Homo sapiens: one gene and its partners. The protein of the gene in region 1 purifies or fractionates together with the protein of each later gene. This does not show direct contact. Each region holds a gene or a part of one and is shown on either strand. Other genes may lie near its edges.

What was found.
Region 2: the proteins of PLXNB2 (region 1) and SPAST purify together in Homo sapiens (co-immunoprecipitation; one large-scale study listed by IntAct). This does not show direct contact.
Region 3: the proteins of PLXNB2 (region 1) and CD9 purify together in Homo sapiens (co-immunoprecipitation; one large-scale study listed by IntAct). This does not show direct contact.
Region 4: the proteins of PLXNB2 (region 1) and SLC22A3 purify together in Homo sapiens (affinity purification with mass spectrometry; one large-scale study listed by BioGRID and IntAct). This does not show direct contact.
Region 5: the proteins of PLXNB2 (region 1) and DLK1 purify together in Homo sapiens (co-immunoprecipitation; one large-scale study listed by IntAct). This does not show direct contact.
Region 6: the proteins of PLXNB2 (region 1) and MST1R purify together in Homo sapiens (co-immunoprecipitation; one study listed by IntAct). This does not show direct contact.
Region 7: the proteins of PLXNB2 (region 1) and ZFTRAF1 purify together in Homo sapiens (affinity purification with mass spectrometry; one large-scale study listed by BioGRID and IntAct). This does not show direct contact.

Annotation. Positions count from the first base shown.
Region 1 is NC_000022.11:50,287,147-50,290,646, forward strand, and holds part of PLXNB2 (plexin-B2 isoform 3 precursor), read right to left. Parts: intron 3,452-3,500; coding exon of another isoform or gene 3,439-3,451; coding exon 2,371-3,438; intron 1,997-2,370; coding exon 1,814-1,996; intron 1,726-1,813; coding exon 1,597-1,725; intron 892-1,596; coding exon 791-891; intron 648-790; coding exon 521-647; intron 119-520; coding exon 1-118.
Region 2 is NC_000002.12:32,070,056-32,073,555, reverse strand, and holds part of SPAST (spastin), read right to left. Parts: intron 1-3,500. UniProt on the Homo sapiens protein: ATP-dependent microtubule severing protein that specifically recognizes and cuts microtubules that are polyglutamylated.
Region 3 is NC_000012.12:6,224,400-6,227,899, reverse strand, and holds part of CD9 (CD9 antigen), read right to left. Parts: intron 2,475-3,500; coding exon 2,366-2,474; intron 1,762-2,365; exon of another isoform or gene 1,540-1,761; intron 1-1,539. UniProt on the Homo sapiens protein: Integral membrane protein associated with integrins, which regulates different processes, such as sperm-egg fusion, platelet activation and aggregation, and cell adhesion.
Region 4 is NC_000006.12:160,445,878-160,449,377, reverse strand, and holds part of SLC22A3 (solute carrier family 22 member 3), read right to left. Parts: intron 1,660-3,500; coding exon 1,560-1,659; intron 1-1,559.
Region 5 is NC_000014.9:100,729,892-100,733,391, reverse strand, and holds part of DLK1 (protein delta homolog 1 isoform 1 preproprotein), read right to left. Parts: intron 1,351-3,500; coding exon 1,209-1,350; intron 1-1,208. UniProt on the Homo sapiens protein: May have a role in neuroendocrine differentiation.
Region 6 is NC_000003.12:49,890,374-49,893,873, forward strand, and holds part of MST1R (macrophage-stimulating protein receptor isoform 1 preproprotein), read right to left. Parts: intron 1,466-3,500; coding exon 1,385-1,465; intron 1,208-1,384; coding exon 1,026-1,207; intron 934-1,025; coding exon 824-933; intron 278-823; coding exon 112-277; intron 1-111. UniProt on the Homo sapiens protein: Receptor tyrosine kinase that transduces signals from the extracellular matrix into the cytoplasm by binding to MST1 ligand. Regulates many physiological processes including cell survival, migration and differentiation.
Region 7 is NC_000008.11:144,452,872-144,456,371, forward strand, and holds part of ZFTRAF1 (zinc finger TRAF-type-containing protein 1), read right to left. Parts: intron 590-3,500; coding exon 351-589; intron 1-350. Other genes in the region: TMEM276-ZFTRAF1 (uncharacterized protein LOC157542 isoform 1 precursor), read right to left, coding at 351-589.

The DNA of each region.
Region 1 (3,500 bases):
AGTTGCAGATGACGGCCTCGCCCTCCACGCGGGCGGGGTGTGGCGGCGACTCCCCAAAAAGGCACAGCAACTCGTCCTCCTCGCTCAGGGCAGGGAGGGGGCTGACGGTCAGCTGCACCTGAGGGAGGGGCCGTGCCGCTCACACTGGGAACCCCGAGTCCTGTCAGCCCACCTGCCGGTGACCCGACCTCCCTGCGTGTGTGGGCGCACGTCCCAGTGGAGCCTCCAGAACCCGACTCCACGTCTTCCAATACAGGCCTCTCTGTGGTCACCCCAGCAACTCCTGGGACAGGGCCTGAGTCCACCCTGGATATGGACAAGCCCCACCCCTGCCCGCCCAGGTCATAGGGGTCCAGGGGACCAATGGAGGGCGGGCTCCATCCCTAAGGCTCGGTGCCCAGAGCCCAGGCGGGGGAGATGTGGAGCCCTCCCCTGCCTGTCCCAACAGCTCCCAGCATGGGGGAGCCCCCACCTGGCCCGGCCTGGGGCCCAGGACCCCCACCCCAGACCCACCACGCACCTCCCCCTGGGCCCGCCGGCTCATGTTCTGTGGCTGGGCGCTGGTGACGGCCACGCAGGACTTGCTTCGGCTCCACAGCCAGTGGCTGGCCTCCTCGGCCCGCGGACACTCGGCCTTCCGGGTGCATCTGCAGGCGCAGGGGGCGGCCTCAGCCCAGGGTGGAGTCTTGTTCTCCCGGGACAGGACAGTGCGATGTGCCCCCCGACCCAGGCCACGACCTTCCGGGATCCCAGAGGCAGGCCGTGTCCCCGAGCCACCCCAGGCACTCACCGTCCCTCGACGACGCACCAGCCGCAGTAGGGGTCCTGGGAGTCGCGGCACTGGGTGCAGGTCGGGTAGCTCAGGCACTCCTGCACCGGCAGCCGGAACACCTAGGGCAGCGGGGCCGTGAGTGGGACCACAGCAGAGGCCGCACGGGCCTTCCGCAGACCCCAGATGTCCCCAGACCGCCAGCTTGACCCAGCTCTGTCCCGGGGCCTCGGGAGCCTCAGACACCTCAGGCTTGATATTAAACAGTTCTGGCTCTGGGTGGCCATGCCTGGCCCAGGATCCCGATGGGAGCCCAGGGAAGCCTGGAGGTCTTGGCTATGGTGTCTCCCGGGGCAGCTCCTGTCCTCTACACTGGCTCCCTCCGAGGGGTGCTCCTAGGGCTGGCCTGAGGGTCTCTGGCACTAACCCCCCACAAGCTTGGGGCCCAGGCCCATGTTCTCCACTGACTGAGCTCACATGGGCTGTGCAGGGACCCCGTCTTCCCATCCACCCTCAGCAACACGCCTCAGACACCAACCCAGGTCCCTTCCATCAGGACAGGGCAGAGGCGGGGCCAGAGGGAGAGACATGGTTGAGACCACAAAGGACAAACAGAAGGAGCGGCAGAGACGGGGCAGTGCTAGAGAGACACAGGATGGAGGCACTGCCCGGGACCCACCCAGCCACCCCTCATCCAGACCAAGGAGAAGGGCCCAGCTCTGCAGCACCCCATCCTCCTCTGGCCCCCAGGCCTGTCCTAAGGGCCTGGGATGCAATGACCGGGCACACTTGGCCTAGAGTGCTCTCCGGGGCTGCGTCTGGCTCACCTTGTCCTGGGTCATGGCGTACAGGCTGCCCAGGTCTCCAGACAGTACCAGGTCGCGCTTGACTCTCTTGTTTATCTCCACAAGGATAGAGTCGTACTCTGAGGAGGTGCCATCTGGGGTGAGGTACACCTGTGTGCGCGAGGGCAGGCCGGTGAGGGTACGGGCCTTGTGCACAGACGGGCCCTCCAGAGCCTCCCCGCCCCAGCCTGGGCCAAACCTTGAGGATCCGGCCATCAGAGGTGCCCAGAAAAGCAACAGTGTGGTTGTTCTCGGCGGCGACCGTCACGGCCGTGAGGTTCAGGCCTCCACGCTGCAGCACGGCTGTGCCTCTGAGCCCGTCGCGGCTGCCCAGCGGGTAGGGCAGGTGCTCCGAGCCACATGGGAAGCTCTTGCTGGAGCCCTGCGGACCACAGCGTGTCAATGGCAGGCAGACCCCCTGTCCTGAAGGGCCCTCTCCACTCGCGCTCCAAGACTCGGGACAGGCCCTTCCCTTCCCTCCGGCACACGTCCTACACACGTCCCCGAGAACAGAACCCACATGGCAGGGAGCCCCACCGTGCTCACTGTTGTGTTCCCCAGTGCCCGACACAGGCCTGGGACTGGCGCCAGCGTGAATGGCATTGAGAGATGCGGCACCCACCCACGCAAGCGCCCAGGCTGGCGAGAGCCACGGCCACACTGCTCACGTGCACCCTCCCCAGCAGGCTGGGACACGCAAACCCACGAACGGACGCCTGCAGTCCGGGCCCTGCGAGAACACACTGAGGCCCATACCGGCGCGTGGCCGCCGCACTGGATATCGCCGTGGAAGGGCTTGTAGAAGATGTCACGGGCCTCCCGGGTGCCTGTGTAACAGGCGTTGCGGTTGGCCTCCATCTTGGCGTGCACCTTGTCCAGCGGGAACAGGCAGAGGCCCGCACCGGGCCCCCCACTGCTCCGGCTGTCTCTGCTGAAGACAGCATATAGCACCCTGCCAGAGCCAGGCGCAGCCACGGAGGCGGCCAGGCAGGTGCCAAAGGCAGCGGCGTGGATGTCGGGGTCCCGGCACTGCAGGTCCATCTCCAGGTAGGAGTAGTAGTTGGGGTCTTCTCTGCACATGCGTGCCAGCAGCGTGCGGTTCCGGGCCGGGTGCTTGTCCTGCTGGTTGAAGACAAAGAAGACGTAGGGGCCGTCCTCGAAGGCCGCCACGAACTGCTGTGTGTTGGTGGACAGGTAGCCGGCCTTGTAGGTGGCGTGGTCCGTGTAGGCTTCAAAGGCCTCCCTGCTGTCAGTCCGGTCCAACAGCCGAGTGCTCACGATGATGCCGTTGTCGTGTGGCCCATTGCCTTTGCCCACAAACAGCACGCGGTCACCACCAGGACCCGTGGAGCTCACCAGCCCCACTGTGGCCACGCCCTCATCATTGCTGGCCACGAAAGACTTCTCCCCGCTGCCGTCCTCGTAGAACAGGCGGAGGGAGATGTTGCTCAGGGCGCGCAGAGCGCAGATGCCCTTGAAGAGGCTGCCGCACTCCACCAGGCGCTTCCTGGGAGGGTCGAGCAGCAGCAGCTGGTTGACATTGTCAGTCATCTCAGCCTCATGGCACTGGCTGGCCTCGATGGGCGGCGTGCACTTCTTGTTGTCCAGGGCCGGGCCCGTGGCCACCTGCTGCTCCAGCTGCAGCTTCGCATCCAGCTGGTAGAGGGCATTCACCGCCCCCAGGTACACCACGCCTGAGGCCTCATCCACAGCCAGGTGGTTCAGCTCTTTCTCGCTGCGGAAGAAGTCCAGCTTGCGGGGCCTCAGGCTGGCACCTGCGCCCAGCAGGCCCAGCAGGGTCAGGGCCCAGAGCTGCAGTGCCATTGCCCCCCGCACCCTGTGGGAAGAGAGAAGGGTCAGGGGAGCCCCGACCCAGAGGACCCCCG
Region 2 (3,500 bases), on another chromosome or scaffold:
GAGTTCAAGACCAGCCTGGGCAATACGGCAAGACCCTGTCTCTATCTTGCTTTAAAAACATTTTTAAAAAAAAGAGTGAAGAAAACTAATATAGAAGAGTAGACAATCTATACTTTGCCAGACATCAAAAACCCAACTACTACTGGGTGGAACAGAGAGAGTAAGACAGCGGAAAAGAGGCAGGAAGTGTTAGGGAACATCCTTCTTCAATAATTCAATATCCAGCCAGGTGCAGTGGCTCACGCCTGTAATCCTAACACTTTGAGGGGCCAACACAGGCAGATCACTTGAGGCCAGGAGTTCGAGACCAACCTGGCCAACACAGCGAAACGCCATCACTACTAAAAAAATAAAATGATTCAATATCCATTTACTAACTATCCTTAATTGTCATCAGGACAACTAACAGTAATATGGGGAATCCAGTTTAATAGGGTTTAACTGTATTCAACATGAGGAAAAATACAACAACAAACCAGCTAAAAACAGAACAAGGGATAAAGTCCTTAACAGTGGCTGCTTTTTTGTGTCTTTGGTGCAGATGCCAGTAAATAATCTTGAGAAAAAATGTGAAATGTTTATTGCATATGTAATCAAAAGCAATGTTATCTTTTGGAAAAGTATGGTATCATCTGAATGTCCATTTATCAGATTTATTCCTTAGTTTAATCAGAGAAACTTCAAAGTAGAATCATTAGGCCCAAAGAAAGCAAGTCTGAAATTAATCCTTTCAAAGTGGTAGGTATAGGTTTTCAGCAGTGTAAGAAAATTACCAAATCTGACACTTCTGATTTCTACCCTCCATCCTCATCTTCTGAAAACAGATATGGACAGCTATTTTATACGTGAGTTTTAAATAAAGTACAATATTGAATTATATAGAATTATGAAATATGATAATTTTCATTAACTTTTTATAAACCGGTAAGCAAAAAATAAAACTCTAAGACCCCCAACTGACTCATGGACCCTCCCCTTGCCAAAGGCATTCCAAAGTTAACCTAAAAAACTAGTTCAGGCCATAATGAGAAGTGGGGGTTGGACATGACTCATATACCCTCTTCCCTTTGGAATTCAGGGACAACTGATCAGCATTAACATTAAAACAGAGATATTAAGATGTTTTGTAGCAATAAGACGCCAAATTCCCAGCCTGACTCTAGTACAGCATCACGTCAGATAGCAGGCCATGAAAGAAATTGAAGTATTTTGAGGCCGGGCACAGTGGCTCACGCCTGTAATCCCAGCACTTTGGGAGGCCGAGGCGGGTGAATCACGAGGTCAAGAGATCGAGACCATCCTGGCCAACATGGTGAAATCCCGTCTCTACTAAAAATACAAAAAAAATAGCTGGGCATGGTGGCCAGCGCCTGTAGTCCCAGCTACTCAGGAGGCTGAGGCAGGAGAACGGCGTGAACACAGGAGGCGGAGCTTGCAGTGAGCCGAGATCATGCCACTGCACTCCAGCCTGGGCAACAGAGCGAGACTCTGTCTCAAAAAATAAATAAATAAATAAAACAAATTGAAGTATTTTACCCTAAATTATATTTCTTTGACATATTCTGAAATGGCCCTGCAAAGCTTTCTCTTGTGGGGAAAATTTACGTTCTGTAGAGAATCCTTTCCCTTTCCAAGTCTTTTACCTGAACCAGGAGAAAATTAACTTAAGAGTCTGCCACCTTTTAAAGTCTCATAAGAAACATTTACAATGTATTCTCTCTGAAGCCTGCTACCTGGAGGCTTCATCTGTACAATAAAAACCTTGGTAGCTACAACCTATTATTTTAAACCAGACACTCCCTTCTATGGATTCCAGGACTTTAGATAAGCTCTTTTGACCAATTGCCAATCAGAAAATCTTTGAATCTGCCTACGACCTGGAAGCCTCCCCAACTTCTAGTTTTCCTGCCTTTCCAGATGGAACCAATGTACATCTTACATGTTTAACTGACGTCTTATGTCTCCCTAAAGTGTATAAAATCAAGCTATAGCCTGACCACCTTGGACAGATGTTCTTAGTATCTACTGGGGCTGTGTCATGGGCCACTGGTCACTCATATTTGGCTCAGAATAAATCTCTTCAAATATTTTACAGAGTTTGACTCTTTTCATTGACGAAGTTATTTTAAATACACACATGCACATATACACAGCTTAAAACTATGAACAGAAAAATATTTTACTTAGACAATTTCTGTCTTCAATGCCTGACCCTTTAGCCCTTTAAAACTATGAATAGAAAAAATTTTATTTAGACAATTTCTGTCTTCGATGCCTGATCCTTTAGCCCTAGAATATCCTGAGAAACTTGATCTCTCATTCATATAACATACTAGGCCTTTTCTGTTTAGTCCTATGTACTTGAGAAATCAAACGTCACCTAGAGAACCTCCACCATTGTGTTACCCAGGAGATTTCCGGCTTGTCTACCCACAGGAGCCATGCAGAACATGATATGTTCTAGTAAATCCAAAGAACCATTATTACAACCTTCTCTTTTCCTCCAAATATTCCAAGGAGCTCATTACCAGCATTACAACATAAAAACCTGCAGTATAAAGTAAAAAGTACAATATTTTGAGTCCATTCACTTAAATTCTATTTTTGTTTCTGCTATGAGTCTACTCTTTGAACTTCAGCTTCTCCTTATATAAAATGGCTATCACAGGTTTTCAGTCTTCCAAGAAAGTTCAACAATTAAAATATTTACCAACTTAGTCAACAGGGCAAGATCACCATCTCTACAAAAAATTAAAAAATCAGCCAAGCATGGTGGTATATGTCTGTAGACCCAGCTACTAGGGAGGCTGAGGTGGGTGGATCGATTGAGCCTGCGAGGCTGAAGCTTCAATGAGCTAAGATGGTGTCATTGCACTCCAGCCTGAACAACAGACCAAGGCCCTGTCTCAAAATGTGTATGTACATATATACGTATGTACACATATTTGTTAATCACATAACTAATGTTTTAACACATCTCACTGGAGAGGAAATAAATATTTCTCAAATATCTAAAATGCAGAGCTGTACAAATTAACTGGCCTCCAATTAATATTTGCTTTAATAAATAGACTTCACATATCCTCTCATTAAGTCAACAGAATTTGCTGTGCTATTCCTCTTTTGAAATAGTTTGGTTTCAGATAAATTAAGGCCTTTATGAAAATTCAGTGTCAAATTTGAGTATGGGTTGGGTGCAGTGGGTCATACCTGTAATCCCAGCACTTTGGGAGGCTGAGGCAGGCGGATCACTTCAGGTCAGGAGTTCGAGATCAGCCTGACCAACATGGTGAAACCCTGTCTCTCCTAAAAATACAAAAATATTAGCCAGGCATAGTGGTGCACGCCTGTAGTACCAGCTACTCGGGAGACTGAGGCAGGAGAATCGCTTGAACCCGGGAGGTGGAGGTTACAGTGAACCGAGATTGCGCCACTGCACTCCAGCGTGGGTGACAGAGCAAGACTCCATTACAAAAAAAAAAAAAAATTTTTTTTTTTTT
Region 3 (3,500 bases), on another chromosome or scaffold:
TCCCACCTGTCAGCTGCTGGCTGGGCCACCGACGCAGGGGTTTCTCTCCCTGACTGCAATTTGGGTGAAGTAAAAGGGCCAAGACAGCGCCACCCCATCCCTGCCAATGGGGCACATTCAGCCAGTACAGACCTCTTCCATTCCTACAGAGGGAGACCCCACAACCTGGCAATGACAACCCGAGAAGCAGCTCTTTTAGGCCTGGGTTCAAAACCTGGCCCTGCCTCTTGAGGGAATATAAGCTTAGACAAGTTATTTCAGCTCTCTAGGCCTCGGTTTCTGCACTTGTGAGATGAGAATCACTCCACACTCCTCGTAGAGCTAAGGGGATTAAATTATATAATACACACAAGACAATGAATGACACACAAAGAAGGGGGCTCAAAAATGTTAGTGTCTTCCAGCCGGGCGAGGTGGCTCACGCCTGTCATCCCATCACTTCGGGAAGCCAAGACGGGAGGATCACCTGAGGTCGGGAGTTGGAGACGAGCCTGACCAACATGGAGAAACCCCGTCTGTACTAAAAATACAAAATCAGCTGGGCATGGTGGCACATGCCTGTAATCCCAGCTACTCAGGAGGCTGAGGCAGGAGAATCGCTTGAACCTGGGAGGCAGAGGTTGCGGTGAGCCGAGATTGTGTCATTGCACTCCAGCCTGGGCAACAAGATTGAAACTTCGTCTCAAAAAAAAAATAAAAAAAATAAAAAATAAAAATGTTAGTGTCTTCCTCCCAGTTCCATCCTCTTACCCATGAGATTCTTAACTCCCACATCTAAAAATATAAAGAATCAGCCATAGAGGCTTTGGGTAACAGAAAAGAAAAAGTGGGTTGTTAGAAGCAGCCAGGACAAGGGAGGACTGAGTCTCTCTTTGGAGACACACGCGCCGGCCACAGGGCTTTTGCTTAGGAAAGCAGGCCTGACTGTGCCTGCTCCTGCCGGCAGACCTGCTCCCCCAGCACAGGGCTCCCTTCTGGAACACGGCGTGGAGTGTGGAGAGTCTTCCCCAGCACCCGCACCCGGCTCCTCCCTCCTGCTCTGCAGGACAGCATTCTAAGCCTGTCACAGACTCCCAAAAAATGGTCTGTTGCCAAAACAAGTCAGGGCGCTATAGAAACCTGTTCCCCAAAAACTCTGTGTGTATGTGTAGTTTTTTTTCTAAACATACATTGTGCTTTCTCTCACTTTCTTTCCGATAATAGAGAGACACACCCCAAAAAACCCCAGCTAACAATAAAAAGCAGTAAACCCAGCAAAACTATCCACAGGGCTCAAATGTTACGCAACCAAAGGAGCTGTTTTTAAAGACTCTCCCTACCCAGTTCAAGAGGTGGGAAAGGGAAGGTCTACGTGGCTGGCCAGCCTTGCTTCTCCCTGAGGGACTGGGAGATAACTGTTTTCTCCCTCGTTTGTAAAAATAACTTTTTTGGTGGGTGGGAAGGAAGTGACCAAACTTACATTTTGAGCCTGACAACATGTCAGCGTCATCCTAAAAATAGGAGGTTTCCTTTGTTCCTCACAAATGAAAAGTTTCCTACCTCCAAGCCAGGCAGAGTACAGCCGCAGAGTCTGAATTCACGCAGACGCGGGCAACTGCACTTGGCAGGCACCAGGCTCCCCCTCCTCTGAAGGGAGCTTTGACGTGGTGATACGGCAACGAGAGGGATAGAATGGTCTAGCAAGGCTGCCAAGAAGCCTGAGTGTAGAAAGAAACCTGCCAAGTCTGTTCATGTTCAGAGGATCCCAGGCAGGTTTAAACTGGAAGCCTCTCTCCCAAAGCAAAAGTCGTGTCAAATACAAACAAATAAAACTAAACACTACAGCATTTACCCCAGTACCAGGGGTCCAAAGGACTGGGCAGAGTCCATTCTAGTCTCTCCTATTGTTGCTGTGTTTTCCAGGAGGCTGATGTTTTTCCCAGTCTCAGAGTCCCTATCTGAACAGTGAAGAGGAAAGCTGTCTATATCTTCTTCCAGCACTGCAGATCCCCAGGACAAAGCTTTTTGAATTAAGGAAATGATGCAGGATAAGAAGACAATCAGGAGAGAGCATCAGAGATGAGAACAGAGGTTCGTAAACCCTCAAGAATGAGTACAACTTTGGCAGAGGCTACATCACATCAGAGAACCATCAACATGCCTGACTTGGCCATCAGGAAAAGAAACCACATCAGTTAAACGCAAATTCCCAGGCACAACGACACACACAAAAACTGCACAACTTGAAAGGGACACGACTGGCCAGCGTGGCTAGAGCAAAAGTCTTTCCCAAGCCCAAGTCCCTGGGTCAACATGGGGCCTCCAAAGTTGCAGGAACTTTGTTGGAGCCAGGGTCTGAATTCACTGAGCCTTCCCCGTCCCTCACCTGTGTAGAAGCTGGAATTATTATTATTAGTTTCTTGCTCGAAGATGCTCTTGGTCTGAGAGTCGAATCGGAGCCATAGTCCAATGGCAAGGACAGCAATCCCGGCAAGCTGCAAGACATACAGGACATCAGCATTAATTCTGGCTGCCAGCAACAACACAGTCCCCACGCGCTTAAGGGTGAGACTTGCAAAGGACTTTGTGACCACCCTTGGTCTCTGCCCCTCATATACGCCTGGTAGTTGTAGATGCCATTACGGGGTGTGTTTGATTCATGCAGGTACTAAAAATACCAGCAAGCGAGGAATAAACAGTGACCTACCTGCCGCCCATTGGCTGAAGGGGTATTTTATAGGCAACAGAACACTATACAGCAGTGAAAACGAGTAACTCTAGCTACACGCAACACCATGAGTGCATCTCACAATGCTAAACCAAGAAGCCAGAGCCACAGGCACACACACAATATGATTCCATGTAGTTAAAAACGCTATGCTGTTTAGGGATGCACACAGAGCTAGACGCTTACATGTGCCTATAAATGATAAAGGAAAAGCATTGTTATCAGGTGAGTGGTGATGTTTAGGTGGAGGAGGAAATTATGCTCAGGGAGGTGCCATGTGGCTGGGGGTGTCGTATTCTAACTGTTGACTTGGGTGATGGTTACACAGTTCCGGACACACATGCACCAGGGAGGGCAGCTGCAATGTCCCTGGAGACCTGCTGCTCAGTAAATGACATGCCAGGGCCTCCCCTCGCTGGCACTGCTGAACTAGATGCTGTGCAGGAGGCCTCCTGCCAAGTCCCCCCAGTGCCAGCTGAGCTCCCTCGTCGTCACCCGTACCAGGGCTTGCCGGGGGAGTGACTCACAGGCCTCCAGTGTGGTAGCCGGCTGGACGCAGGAGTGGGTGGGCCCAGGTTTTGCTGGTCCACCCTCCTCAACAGAGGCACTCTTATGTCAGAGCCCGCTCATCAGGGACCTTGGTTCTCGGCTCCAGGAGCTATTGATAGCCCATGGTGTGGACAGGCCTCTCTTTCCTTCCTCCTTTCCTCCTCTCCTTTCCCTTACGATATGGCAGTGAGTGTGGGCATGTTGGGTGGACAGCAGATGTGGCAATAGTGGGAAGGGCCACCCA
Region 4 (3,500 bases), on another chromosome or scaffold:
TATAAACAGAAAAAAATTAGAAAGAATCTGGGTACCTTAAATTTTTGCTGGTATAATCCTTCATGTTTATATGTTAGTTGGGTATTGATTTTCCTTGCACACCATTTAGACAACCCCCTTCCACCCACACTCCCCAAGCCAAAAACAAACAAAAACAAAAACAAAAAAACCTCTCCTAGCTGTTTATTTTTAATGTTACTGAAGCAGTAGAAAAGTCTTGATTTCAGAGGACTCCCTTTTCTTCCATTTTTTCCTGATGAGTTTGCAAATCTGATCCTGATTGGTTTGGGGATAAAGAATGAAAGCATCACTCTCATTGTGTAAACAGAAGGCAGTCAGTGGAATAGAATCAAAGGGAAGAAAGCTGTTCCTCAGGATTTTTTATATATTAAAAATATTTAGAGCTCCATGTTCTTAATTCCTAAGTCATTATTAAGATTGCTTTTTAGTTGTTAAATTAGCTGTTACATCATTTTTTAAAACTACACAAGCAACACAAGACTACGTGTTCTAATTTTTAAAGAAAATCAAACAGTATGGAAGTCTCTGGCAAGAAAGTGATGGTCCTCCCTTCCCTACCCCTCTTCCCAGCCCATTTGTGTCCACAGAGGGCACATATTAATATTTTACATCTTGTACTATACATTCTCATATTCATATCTCTATGTTTTAATGAAAAAATTTCAAACAATTAGAAAGAATTTGTGTAATGTGAATTTTTCTTGACATTACTCCTCATGTTAATATATTGGCTGGGTATTAGTTTTACTTATACCCTATTTAAACACCCCCCTCCAAAACTCAATCTCTCTATCTTCCTACTAATGTTTATTATCTATCATCTATTATCTATTTATCTATCCACCTATCTATCCAGACATTACCTATCATCTACCTGTCTATTTATCTATCTGTATCTATCTATCATCTATCATCTATTATTTATCATTTATCTACTATCACTTATCTATCTATGATTATCATCTATTATATCTATCTATCATCCATCTACCTATTATCTATCATCTACCTATTATCTATCATCTGTGTGTCATCTGTCTTCCTATCCAGCTGCAGAGAGAAAACACCTTTGGTTTTAGTTTTTTATAAATACTATAACATGTTGTTCAGTGACATTTCACTTTGTAGTCAGTCTTGAAAACCTGCCTATGCCATTCCATCTAGACAGACCTGACGCATCCTCACTCTGTAGAGTAAGCCACACTGTTAATCCCCTGCTGCTGTATGTCCCAGCAATTTCCACTTTCCCACATCAGCAGTTCCTGCCTTTAGATCACTTCTGAGTCTTAGCACCTTATGTGAAAATGCTTCTCTCTTCACAACCACATTAAAAAAAACAATGCATACTCTTATCTAGCTCTGGAGGGTTTTTTTTATGTTAACCTTTTGTATCTACTTTGAATTTTTTGCTTACAATATGAGATGAGGATTTATTCTTATTTTTTTCCCTGTGGATATTCAATTTTCTCAATGTCATTCTTTCCCCCGTGGTTTTAAATATTGCTTTTATTTAGGGTGCATTGAATTTTGTACAGTACCTGCCAAGTTTTTCTACATCATCCACTGTCTCTGGCAAGGCAATACCCTTGGTTTCAGGCAAAAGCATCACAAGGCCACCACAGATGGATGCCAGGATACCTATGGAATAGGGGAAAGGTGTTACCGCTCCAGGAAGACACAGCTGGGCCCTCTCCCATGGGGCCTGCTCACTCTGAAGCCATCATGTTGCTCACTGGAGTAGCTCTCAACCACAGCAACCTCTGCATCCCAGATCAATGCCCCAGCTCTCCCTTACCACAGCTTCAAAGGTTCTCTCCCTTCCTCAAACCCTGAGTAGCACCACGGCCCCTGTATACCTGGCAGCCATGTGTTCACTCACACATCTCACAGTGATTGACTGAGTTCCTTCTTAGGGTCCAACACCCAAGGCCTCCTCTCCTGCATCACAGGGAAACAGAAGTGCTGGAGGGGAGTCCCCTCTGCGCCCGCTCACTGACACTCTCACTTACCTGCCCCTCTCCCTCCGATTCCTCCTGTTACCTTACAGTGGAAAGCTTGTCCTGGTGTCTACTCCGGGACCAGCCTTCTCCTAGGCCTGTCTCTTTGGGCTCCTCACTGTAGGGATCAACCCTTCCTCCAGTATCTTCAACCTATTGGGAGAAGCTTTCAAACACATTCAGACCTTTCCTGTTTGACCAGCCTTCTCTCAATCTCACCTCATCCTTCCATTACCATCCTTTCTTTTTCTGCTCTTTAGAGCCAAACTTCTTGAAAAGCCACCCTCCCCTATTTTCTCCACTTCTTTGTAGCCTAGTGGTGTGCTGGTAAATGCCTAACAACCCTCTTTGGGCAATCAAGCCCTGATTGGCAGCATCTGCCAATGTGCATGGTTTAAATGCTCCCACTGTGGGCCCTTCAGGCTACTGACACAACATCCCTGCCTGGGCCACTGGGAAGTGATGCAGGAGCCCCATCAATGGGGCTTCCACCATAAAGATGCAGCAGACACAATCTCAGGAGCACAGGTAATACTGAAGGTGTAGTAGCTGAATTAGGGACTGATGAGTGTTGGGCATTTATTGCCTCTATTTCTCATATATTTCATATTCTTTACTTTTTGATGATATCTGTGCTTGATGACTGGCTTACAAAATTCTTGAAAATGTAGCTGATATGGTTTGGCTCTGTCTATCCACCCAAATCTCATCTCGAATTGTAATCCCCACATGTTGAGGGAGGGACCTGGTGGGAGGTGACTGGATTGTTGGGGAGGTTTCCCCATGCTGTTCTCGTGATAGTGAGTGAGTTCCCATGAGATCTGATGGATTTATAAGTGGTAATTTTCCTTGCTCTTCTCTTACCTGCCACCATGTAGGACGTGCCTGCTTCCCCTTCCACCATGATTGTAAGTTTCCTGAGGCTTCCCCAGTCATGTGAAACTGTGAGTCAATTAAACCTCTTTTCTTTATAAATTACCCAGTCTTGGGCAGTTATTTATAGCAGTGGCAAACGAACTAATATGGTAGCAGTTGGCCCTGGTGAGTGGGAGGTGCCAGCACCAGCATAGGACCATGCTCCAGGTCCTGCCTCTGCCTGCCCTCCTCCAGACTCAGCCTATATTCTCCCTGGCTCTGCTCCAGTCAGGTTCCTTCTGCCTCTTGCTGGCCACCAGATCCACATGTGCTACTTTCAGTCCTTAGGTTGGACCTGGTCTCGTGCCCTCCTGCCTCGGGCTTCTCACTTGGTTTCCACTTCCTTGGCCACCTCCTCTCCTTCTGCCTAGGTCTGTCACTTTGCCACCCCTCAGGTCTCTGTCCTAGGCCTCCTGCTTTCCTCTTGCTTTGTCCTGATTTTCTGGGGGGCTTGGGCCACTCCCTCAGCTTCAACCATTCTCTACTGCCAGGTGGCTTCCAGCTCTTCATCCCAAGGCCACTCTTCCCTCCTGAGCTCAGCGGTGTTGAGCCTGCTGGTTTCTATTT
Region 5 (3,500 bases), on another chromosome or scaffold:
GCATTTAATGTAAGTGCTTTTAAACGAGCGAGCCCTTTGTCATCCGATAAATGGCAAAACTCCGGGGAAGAAGGGGCAGTAAACACAAGAAATCAGCACTGCTGCTTCAGGGTGTGGGCTGCATGGGAGCTGGGCTCTGAAGGAATTTCAAGGGCCTTAGGCTCTATTTTGACACACTGGTTTAAGTCCATTCGCGAGAAAAGCAAAATATTTTAAAGGTCTCGCTCTGTTTTTCTCCTTCCTGCTAATAAGCAGAAATGGAGTTCAGTCTTCACCAGCCCCCACTCTGACCCCGTCTGAAGACTGATCTTTGGAAGCCCCGTTAATGTCTGTTTACAGCTCTTACAGACTACTGGGGTCTCTGTGCCACCCTGCGATGTCCGGTCAAGATAAGCTTATTTGCATGTTAGCTTCTGTTTCTTCAGAGGAAAGGGACACCCCTGCCCCCCAACTACAGGCCCAGGACTGGGTTCAAGTTTGGATTCTTACATTCGGACCCTGCCTCTGTCAAGATCTCCCTTGGCTTCAGGCTAAGCCCCATCCAGCGGGGAGGGATGGCTCAGGGCCGCCAAAGAGATAATGGGTGGGCAGAGGCTGAGCTGCTGGGAAGCATTGTTCAGGGAGGTCCAAGTGAAGACAGTGGCCACTCTGTCTGTTATGTCCGCTGCCCAGGAGTCCCAAAGCCCCCTTCCCCACTGAGGATAGCCGACAGCTGGCCCACCTCCTCTCGTGCTGGCAGAAGCCCAATCTCTTCACCTCTCAGCCTGGCAACTCCCTCCACAGACATCCCAGAAAATCCAATTGCAGAGCCCACCAGTTCCCCAAAACCACCCCCTGAGATACAGCAAGTGGGTTTCACAAACAGCCTCAGCCCCGCGGAGCTCCAATCTTTTACTACGTTGCCTTTAGAAAATTACGCAGCTCCGAGTGTCAGTTCATCATTCCGATCGACTGTCACTCACACGCATCGGGACTTGAGAACATCAGGGGAATATGAAATCGCCTTCAGGATCATTTGAAAAAATTATGGCAATGACACATTCCCCCGTGAATACTCCCATCCAGGGCGGTCCCCTACGGGGCTGCCAGGATGAGCGCTTACTTCATCTTTTGTCAGACGACAGGTCCAGCAGGGTTAGGCTGAAAGGGTCTTTGGTGGCCGCATGAAAAGCAGCATTCATTAGATCACACACAGGAAGGATATTTACCCGTTGATCACACAGGGCCCGTCCTTTTTCTGGCAGTCCTTTCCCGAGTACCCGGGGGCACAGGAGCATTCATAGAGGCCATCGTCCAGGCTCACGCAGGTCCTGTTGTTGGCACAGGGGGCCGAGGAGCAGGCCCGAACATCTGCGGGGTGACGGGGAAGACGAGAACTTAGCTTCCTCTCCATACACGAGCGTGATGCGGGCCCCAGTGGGCTTTAAAATGGCTCTATGGCCACCGAGTGGGGTCTGGAGTAAGAGGGTTTAGGGAGCCCCCTCAAAAAAACCCATGAAGTGAGTAAGCTGAGGCTCAGGAAGCTGAAGGGGTTTCCTTGCCTAAGGTCACAGATCAGAAAGTCGTGGCCACTGATATTCAGGCCAGGATAGCTGTTCCCTTTGCCTGGCACCAGGTCACCCCATATCCAGCGACATGTCCGTGACGTTCACTGTGGACATCATGCCCCTCCCTGCAACAGCGTGCCTAGCTGAGATTCCCTAAGGCCTGTCTCCACCAGACAAGACTGCATCTCCACCCTCTCCTGTTAGGGGAGGGGTCCTGGCCAGCCGGGGGATGAATACAGCCCAACCCTCAGAAAAACCACCAGCTCTTCATACTTTTCCATCAAAGAGGGGCAGTGGGGGGGATGGAGATGTAACGACCCCCCTCCGTCAGGAATCAAGAAACCTGTTAACCCCAGCACTACCACGTGTCCCTGTGGTCTCTCTTTCTGCACTCAGGCTCTGAACTCAAGGGGTCCCTGGTAAAAAGGCTTCATCTTTTAAAGCCAGGGAAATTAGAACTATTGAGCGCTCTCCTATCAGCACAGGTTTCCATGAGCACTGGTATATTCCCACCATCTTTTAACACCTTCCATCACGCACACTTCATTATTCAGGTTCAGCAAGCCAGGGATGAGCTGAACACAAGGGCCTGAGTCAGGGGCTCTCTGATGATGGAGACCCCAGCTCCCCAGTGGGGCCAGGAAGGGACCCCTGTCCTGCCCTGTATCCGGCCTGCTGCCATGTGGCAGCAGAGTTCAGCTCCTACCCATTCTGGGCCTCAGTTTCCCTACTTATAAAAAGAGGGTCTTTCCCTGGCCAATCTCTGAGGGACTCTTCAGCTTTGATTTTCTATAATTTGAGCTGCTGTACCTGCCAAACAGAAAGCCAGGGCCAGTGAGAGACACAGCAAGCTAAGGCAGGCTGGAGGGGGTGGGGGGAGGGGAAATCCCCCGTGCTGAGGCCACACATGTGCGTATTTTTTCCCCCTCTCAGAGAGACCCACACCCTCGTGGAGGGGAGACTGCAATCAATCAAGGAGGAAGAGCCTGAACGTTGTGTTGATGGACTACCCCGTGGTGTTCCATGGAAGCCCGGCTTGGTGCAAGGACACATAAAGAGGATTTATCTTTACGGGACGGCACCGGCAAGGCATTAGCACGTGGCGCCTCCGCGTCAGGCTCCTTATTCTCTGCACCCGACTCTCCTGTCACTCAGAATCTTAAATTTAAGCTAAAAAGCTGGCGACCACCCCCAGCTTGTCCCTGCAGCTCTCCCTGCTATGCCAATCCTGGATCAGCCCTCCTGAGCCTCCAACCCCAAGACAGGGGTGAATTAAGCTGCTCTGAGGAAAAGGCTGCTTGGGGGTCTCTGCTGGGACAGCAGCTGTGGCCACGACAGCCTCAAAGATGGGCAAAAAGGGAGAGGGAGGGCTATGTCTTCTCTGGGACCCCAGACTCTCTGGCCATCCCCAAGCTGGCTGCCTTTGTCAACTTGGTGGGGAGGGGACATACCAAGGGCCCATGAGAAGGGAGGCATTTGTCCGGAAAATTTCAGCAAGGGTGTACGGCATTTAGATACCAAAAAGATGGGCTCCAAGCTAAAAGCCTAACCCTGATCCCAAATGGTGGCTTTGCTGGAATCCCCCAGATCCTCAAACGACTCAGAGCTGCTGCCGCTGCTTCTGTGAGGGGCAGCAGAGATGCTGGCCAGAGCATGAGTCAGCTGCGGGTAAACCTTGCACCATATTGCAGGGGCTGGAATTAAGGACCAGAGACAATTTGGGGTGGGAGGGAGCTCAGCTTCAGAACCACGGCTGCCCTGGCTGTACAGGGCAGGGGCCACAACAAAATGCTCTTAGGTGTTCCTTAAGGAAGGATGTTAGATGCAATCGAAGATAAAAATTAACTCTCTTTCTGGGGCTGGGGGAAAGGGTTGTAGCTGGCTTTTTGCCCAACTTCTTTCATATTCCTTAGCAGACACTTGTGCTTCTCTGATCCTCAGTTTCCCTATCTG
Region 6 (3,500 bases), on another chromosome or scaffold:
GTCATCTACCCTGGGGACTCCCTGGGCTCAGATCATTCAGAGCTGAATGGGTGAGGCCCAGTGTTCTTGGGTGCCAAAGCCATGTGGACTGTAGGGCAGGTGGGGCCTCACCACATCAGACTTGGTGGTAAATCTATAGGTCTGCAGGCTCTCCAGCGCCATCCACTTCACAGGTAGGCGAGCGTGGCGATGCTGTTGAACACTATAGTACTCCCTGTCCAGGATGTCGCGGGCCAAACCAAAGTCAGCCACCTTGACTGTGAATGACTCGTCCAGCCTTAGGGGTAGGGAGAGGATCACACTTAGGACTGGCCCTTACCAGGCCCTGAACCCACCTGTTCTAGGCCCTTACAGAATTTTTTTTTTTTTTGAGACGGAGTCTCGCTCTGTCACCCAGGCTGGAGTGCAGTGGCGCGATCTCCGCTCACTGCAAGCTCTGCCTCCTGGGGTCACGCCATTCTCCCGCCTCAGCCTCCTGAGTAGCTGGGACTACAGGGGCCCGCCACCACGCCTGGCTAATCTTTTTGTATTTTTAGTAGAGACGGGGTTTCACCGTGTTAGCCAGGATGGTCTCGATCTCCTGACCTCATGATCCGCCTTCCTCAGCCTCCCAAAGTGCTGGGATTACAGACGTGAGCCACCGCGCCTGGCCAAATTTCAAAGCCACAGTGTCCAGTCCAAGTCTGCACTGGGCAGACAAAAAAAGTAAGGTGCAGAGAGGGGAGGACAAGGCTGGAGTGGGCCCTTCCCTGAGGCGGCCTTGAGCACCGCACACCCTCATGCCCTGTCCTTTTGCTTCACCCCAGCTACTCTGGACTCTCACATGCAGTTCCGCGCAGCCAGGTCCCTGTGCACAAACTTCTGCTCTGCCAGGTACTCCATGCCGCGGGCTACCTGCAGGCCAAAGCTGATGAGGTCCTTCACGGTGGGGTTCTGGGGGCACAGGTGGGTTGGTGGGCAAGGGCACAGCAGCTCCTTCTCCAGCTGCTGCCCAGCCCCCAACCCAGAGCCAGATGAACACTGACCCGCTGAGGTGAGCGGATGAACTGGAGCAGGTCACCGTGGCACATATAGGGCAGCAGCACATGGGGCAGGCCCTCAGGTGGCAACATGATACCAATGAGAGCCAGCACATTCGGGTGGTTCAGGCCACGCATGAGCAGCCCCTCTCGCAGGAAGGCCTCCACCTGCTGCATCTCTGTGATGCCTGCAGAGCAGCGCAAGTCAGGCACAGGGCAGGGCGTCCCTTTATAAGGCTCAGATGGGGAAATGGGAAATGAAGGTCTCCTGCTCAGGGTCACTCAGTAAGGTGGGAACACAGAGAAAAAGAATCCTCCCAGCCTGAGGCCCCTCCCTCTGCCTTCCCATCTTCTGCCCCACTTACGACTTAGTGACTTGATGGCACATTGGATTCGATTCTGGGCCTGGTCTATGTATTCTCCGTGGTAGACAACTCCAAAGTGGCCTGGTGTGAGGTGCATAATGAGTCGATGAGAGGGGATCCAGGGCCCAAGGCTCACACCACACATTCTCATTGGCAACCAGACCTCAGAGCACTAAACTGGCCAATCTGACATTTTATTTATTTTTAATTTTTATTTATTTTTTTTGAGACCGAGTCTCACTCTTGCCCAGGCTGAAGTGCAGTGGTGCAATCTCAACTCATTGCAACCTCTGCCTCCCAGGTTCAAGTGATTCTCCTGCCTCAGCCTCCTGAGTAGCTGGGATTACAGGCAACTGCCACTACACACAGCTAATTTTTTTGTATTTTTAGTAGAGACTGGGTTTCACCATGTTGGCCAGGCTGGTCTCAAACTCCTGATCTTGTGATTCACCCACCTAGGCCTCCCAAAGTGCTGGGATTACAGGTGTGAGCCACCACACCCGGCCCAATCTGACATTTTAAAAAAGCAGCAGGGCTGCGTGCAGTGGCTCACACCTGTAATGCCAGCACTTTGAGAGGCCAAGGCGGGTGGATCACGAGGTCAGGAGTTTGAGACCAGCCTGGCTAATATGGTGAAACCCCATCTCTAGTCCCAGCTGCTTGGGAGCCTGAGGCAGGAGGATAGCTTGAACCCGGGAGGCAGAGGTTGCAGTGAGCCAAGATCGTGTCACTGCACTCCAGCCTGAGAGACAGGGCGAGACTCCATCCCCCTCAAAGAAAAGCAGCAGAAGCCAAGCGCAGTGCGCCTGTAATCCCAGTTACTCAGGAGGCTGAGGCAAGAGAATCGCATAAGCCCAGGAGTTCAAGGCCAGCCTGGGTAACATAGTGAGATGCTGTCTTTTTTTTAAATTAAAAAAAAAAAAAAAAGGCTCATGCCTTTAATCCTAATACTTTGGGATGCTGGGGCGGGAGGATCAGCTGAGGTCAGGGGTTCAAGACCAGTCTGGCCAACATGATGAAACCCCGTCTCTACTAAAACTACAAAAATTAGACAGGTGTGGTGGCAGTGGCAGGCCCCTGTAATCCCAGCTACTCAGGAGGCTGAGGCAGGAGAAATGCTTGAATCCAGGAGGCAGAGGTTGCAGTGAGCCGAGATTGCACTACTGCACTCCAGCCTGGGCAATAGAGTGAGACTCTGTCTCAAAAAAATAAAAATAAATAAATAAGTAAATAAAGCAGGGTCGGGTGCGATGGCTCACGCCTGTAATCCCAGCACTTCGGGAGGCCGAGGCGGGCGGATCACCTGAGGTCGGGAGTTTGAGACCAGCCTGGCCAACATGATGAAACTCCATTTCTACTAAAAATACAAAAATTAGACGGGCTTGGTGGTGCACGTCTGTAATCCCAGCTACTTAGGAGGCTGAGGCAGGAGAATCACTTGAATCCGGGAGGCAGAGGTTGCAGTGAGCTGAGATCATGCCACTGCACTCCAGCCTGGGTGACAGAGTGAGGTTCTGTCTCAAAAATAAATAAATAAATAAATAAATAAATAAATAAATAAATAGGCTGGATACAGTGGCTCACGCCTGTAATCCCAGCACTTTGGGAGATCAAGGCAGGCAGATCACCTGAGGTTAGGAGTTTGAGACCAGCCTGGCCAACATGGTGAAACCCCATCTCTACTAAAAATACAAAAATTAGCCAGGTGTGGTGGCGGGCGCCTGTAATCCCAGCTACTAGGGAGGGTGAGGCAGGAGAATTGCTTGAACCTGGGAGGGGGAGGTTGCAGTGAGCCAAGATTGCACCACTGCACTCCAGCCTGGGTGATAGAGCAAGACTCCATCTTGAAAAAATAAAATAGGCCGGGCGCGGTGGCTCACACCTGTAATCCCAGCACTTTGGGAGGCTGAGGCGGGTGGATCATGAGGTCAGGAGATCGAGACCATCCTGGCTAACACGGTGAAACCCCATCTCTACTAAAAATACAAAAAATTAGCCGGGCACGGTGGCAGGCGCCTGTAGTCCCAGCTACTTGGGAGGCTGAGGCAGGAGAATGGCATGAACCTGGGAGGCGGAGCTTGCAGTGAGTCGAGATCGCGCCACTGCACTCCAGCCT
Region 7 (3,500 bases), on another chromosome or scaffold:
GTGGCTGCCTCCACTGGATGGGTAGCCATGGGCAGTGTACCCTCACACCAAGCTCCCTGAGGTCCTGCGTTGGACACGCTGTCCTGGGCCCTTCAAGGGGCTCCCCCACAGCCACAAAGAGCACTGGAAGGCTAGGCTCATGTCCGGATAACAACTGGGTGCAAAACCCACCTGTCCCCATCCTGTGCAGGCACCCTCCCACAGGGCCGTCACTGGGCTACACAGGTGGTCCCCAAGGCCCAGACAGCAGAGACAGCCAGACCACCCTGCACAGGGCCCTGCTGCACCAGGGTGGGCTCCCAGCAGTCCTGGGCCCCGCCTGTAAGGCTAAGCCCCTGACCCTCAGTTACCTGTCCTGGCATTCCTCTTTCTGGTGCCTCTCCAGGAGGGAGCGGGGAAACTGGCGCAGGCAGAAGCCACACTCTGAAGGCAGCTCGCTCACGGCTTTCTCCACGGCCAGGTTCCGGCAGCAGAGGCTCTTACTGATCTCACAACGACAATTGGGGCACGTGGCCTGCTCCTCCTTCAGCCGGGCATCTGCTAGTAGGTGGATAAAACAGCCAGCGCACATCAAGTGACCATTAGTACACTGCGAAGAAGGAAAGGGAGACGAAGCTCACAGACCTGCGGGCTCATGCTCGCACACACCCGCCCATGCCCATCAGCTCCAGCCAGGTGTCCTGAGGGACTCCAGCTGGTGCAGAGGGGCGCACGTGCCTGTCCCGAGTCGTGCTGGAGTGTGGTGAACACTGCGAGCTGCTCAGGAGAAACAGGCAGAGCCAGCTTGGGTTCTTGCAGAGATTAGAGGTCCTAAAAGCAAGGCCTCATCAGCTCACAGAGGTGACAGCTCGCCCTGGCAGTGACGGGTTCAGCCACCTGGGGCCGAGGGTCACGCTTTTCCCTTAGGGACCAGCGACTGCCCTGACCCCCCTACAGGTCCAGAGTTTGGGAGCCCTCCAGGAACACTGGGCTCTTGGCCATCACTGTCAGGTGGGGAGCGGATGCAGCTCCCACACTGGGGCAGGCATGCTCTCTGGGCCTTCAGAAAGGCCATTTATCCTGGGTTGAGAGGACTTGGCTCAGGGTGAGCCCAGGTGAGAGGAGGCAGCTGCCCCCTCGTCCAGGGAGGTTGGCTACCTGCAGAGACCTCCTCAGAGCTGGGAGGCAGGAGCCAAGCTGGCCCAGGACAAGGACAAGGGCAGGTAGGCACACAGGGAGTGCCTGGGGAGCAGAAATGGGGGCTCTGAGTGGGTGCCGAGCCTGCTGGGGTAACCGGGGCTGGCAGGAGCAGGGCACCTCCCGCTGGGCTCCCTGCCTGTGTGGGCTCCCAGCACGCCCAGTGGCCTATCCTGGCTCTCACTCCCTCAACATAAGCCTCGAGCGTCCACTTGGTGCCACTGAGAGACACATGGCAAGCTGCGGTCCCAGCCCGTGGGGGCTCACAGCATGGGAGGTGGGAAGCCCAGACCAGAACCAAGAGGTCCAAGAACAAACAAAGCCTTTTGTACCTGAGCAGACACAGTTCCCACAGCCCTGGCTGGAGTGGGGTGTGTGGGCTGAGGCATTCCAGGGCCAGCCAGGAGTGACAGGGATGTGATGTGCCTCCCACCCAAAGACTCTTAGAGCTCGCTGAGGGGAGCAGTCAGCAGAGTTGCTCCTGTCCTGATGCCTCTCCAGCAGCCGGCCCAGGCTTGCCAGCCATGCAAACCTCCAGAAAGCCACTGGGCTACAGGCTTCCTTTGGGACCTGGGACCCTCTTGAGAATGGGATGTGGTGCAGCAGAGCAGCCTGCCCAGGCCCAGCCTCTCTACAAGGTGTGTGTCAGGGAGGGGACACTCACAGGGCCCTGCCTGGTGGCGCTGGGAGGCCGGCCCTGCCTGGTGGTGCTGGGAGGCCAGCCCTGCACACGTGGGGCCCTGGGAAGTCTGAGCTGCCATCCTACTGCTTCAGCTGCCTGTGCACCCCAAGCTAAGGAGCTGTCAGACGCTGGGGCTGTTCACTCAGCACCTGTGGACTAGGCCTAAGGCCTGCTGAGTCAAAGGACCTACATGTGGAGAACCGACAGTGAGGACAAAGCCCTCTTTCATGGAATCCACATCCACATGAACACCACCCGTTACCTGCATTCAATCCTCAAGTTCTCAGTTTGGTTAAAAATTAAAATTACAGGCGGTGGCTCATGCCTGTAATCCCAGCACTTTGGAAGGCCGAGGCAGGCAGGTCACCTGAGGTTAGGAGTTCATGACCAGCCTGGCCAACATGGTGAAACCCCATCTCTACTAAAAATACAAAAATTAGCCATGCATGGTGGCGAGCGCCTGTAATCTCAGCTTCTCAGGAGGCTGAGGCAGGAGAATGGCTCGAACCCGGGAGGCGGAGGTTGCAGTGAGCCGAAATGGTGCCACTACACTCCAGCCTGGGAGACAGAGTGAGACTCTATCTCATGAATACATAAATAAATAAAAATTAAAACATACACAGTTGCCTGAGGCAGGGAGTGAGACTGGCTCTGACTGGGTTGGGGACAAGCTGAGACCTGCCCCCAGGAGAAGGTGTGAAAATCCGCCAGCCAAGTCCAGGGGTCAGTGGTGGGTGGACTACAGGCAGGAGGGGGCACAGATGCTATTGAAGCAGCTGTCCTGTGGGAGGCACAGACCAAGGGCCCACACCACTGTCCTCTCACAGCCCCCCGCCCCCCGGAGGTATGCCACTCCACGTGGCCAGCTCTAAACACCTCCTGGTGAGACTGCCGGGGGCCTTGGACGAGGTTCTGGGTCCAGCTCTGCACGTACAGTGGCCTTAGCACAGGCAAAACAGCACTCTTCTTGGCTGTGGCCCGACCCCCAAGGGAGTTCCAGGCAGGGCTGGAGCATCTAATGCCACCCACCAAGGCCACCTGGCCTCTCTTCCTGGCTCTGCATAGCCCAGGAAGATTCGAGGTGGGGTCCTAGACCCTCCTAAGGGAGCACTGAGGCTGCCAAGCACATCACCACTTACCTCCCAGCACTGCGGGCCTCTCCCCCGAAAGCCACCCCAGCTCCTGGGCCGGCCCCTGGCCACAGGCCTCATTCCTTTGGGGCCTCCAGATCCCAGCATGGGCTCAGTCAATTCCATACCATGAGGAGGCAGCAGTGACCCTGCCCTCCTCTGGCTCTCTCTGGGCCTCCAAGAGGACCTGCAAGCTCCGAGGAGACACAGGGCCATTGCCCCTTCAGCCCCAATAGCTCCATTCAAGTCAGAACACAGGGAGTCCCTAGAGTGCCCTGGACTACACTGGCCCAGTAGCCAAGGGACACAGCCACACTCACCCCCAGACCCTCCCCACTGGTCAAAGGACATCTCTAGGTGCATGGCCCGGTCCCGACCAACACTCAGCCCAGGAGGTCTGTCCACAGCAGGACGGTCCCTGGTCACATGCTCCGGAGCCTCCCCACCATCTGGGTCCCCTCAGCCCCTGCGCAAGACTCTGGCTCTACACCAAGGCCAGGCCACAGGCAGCT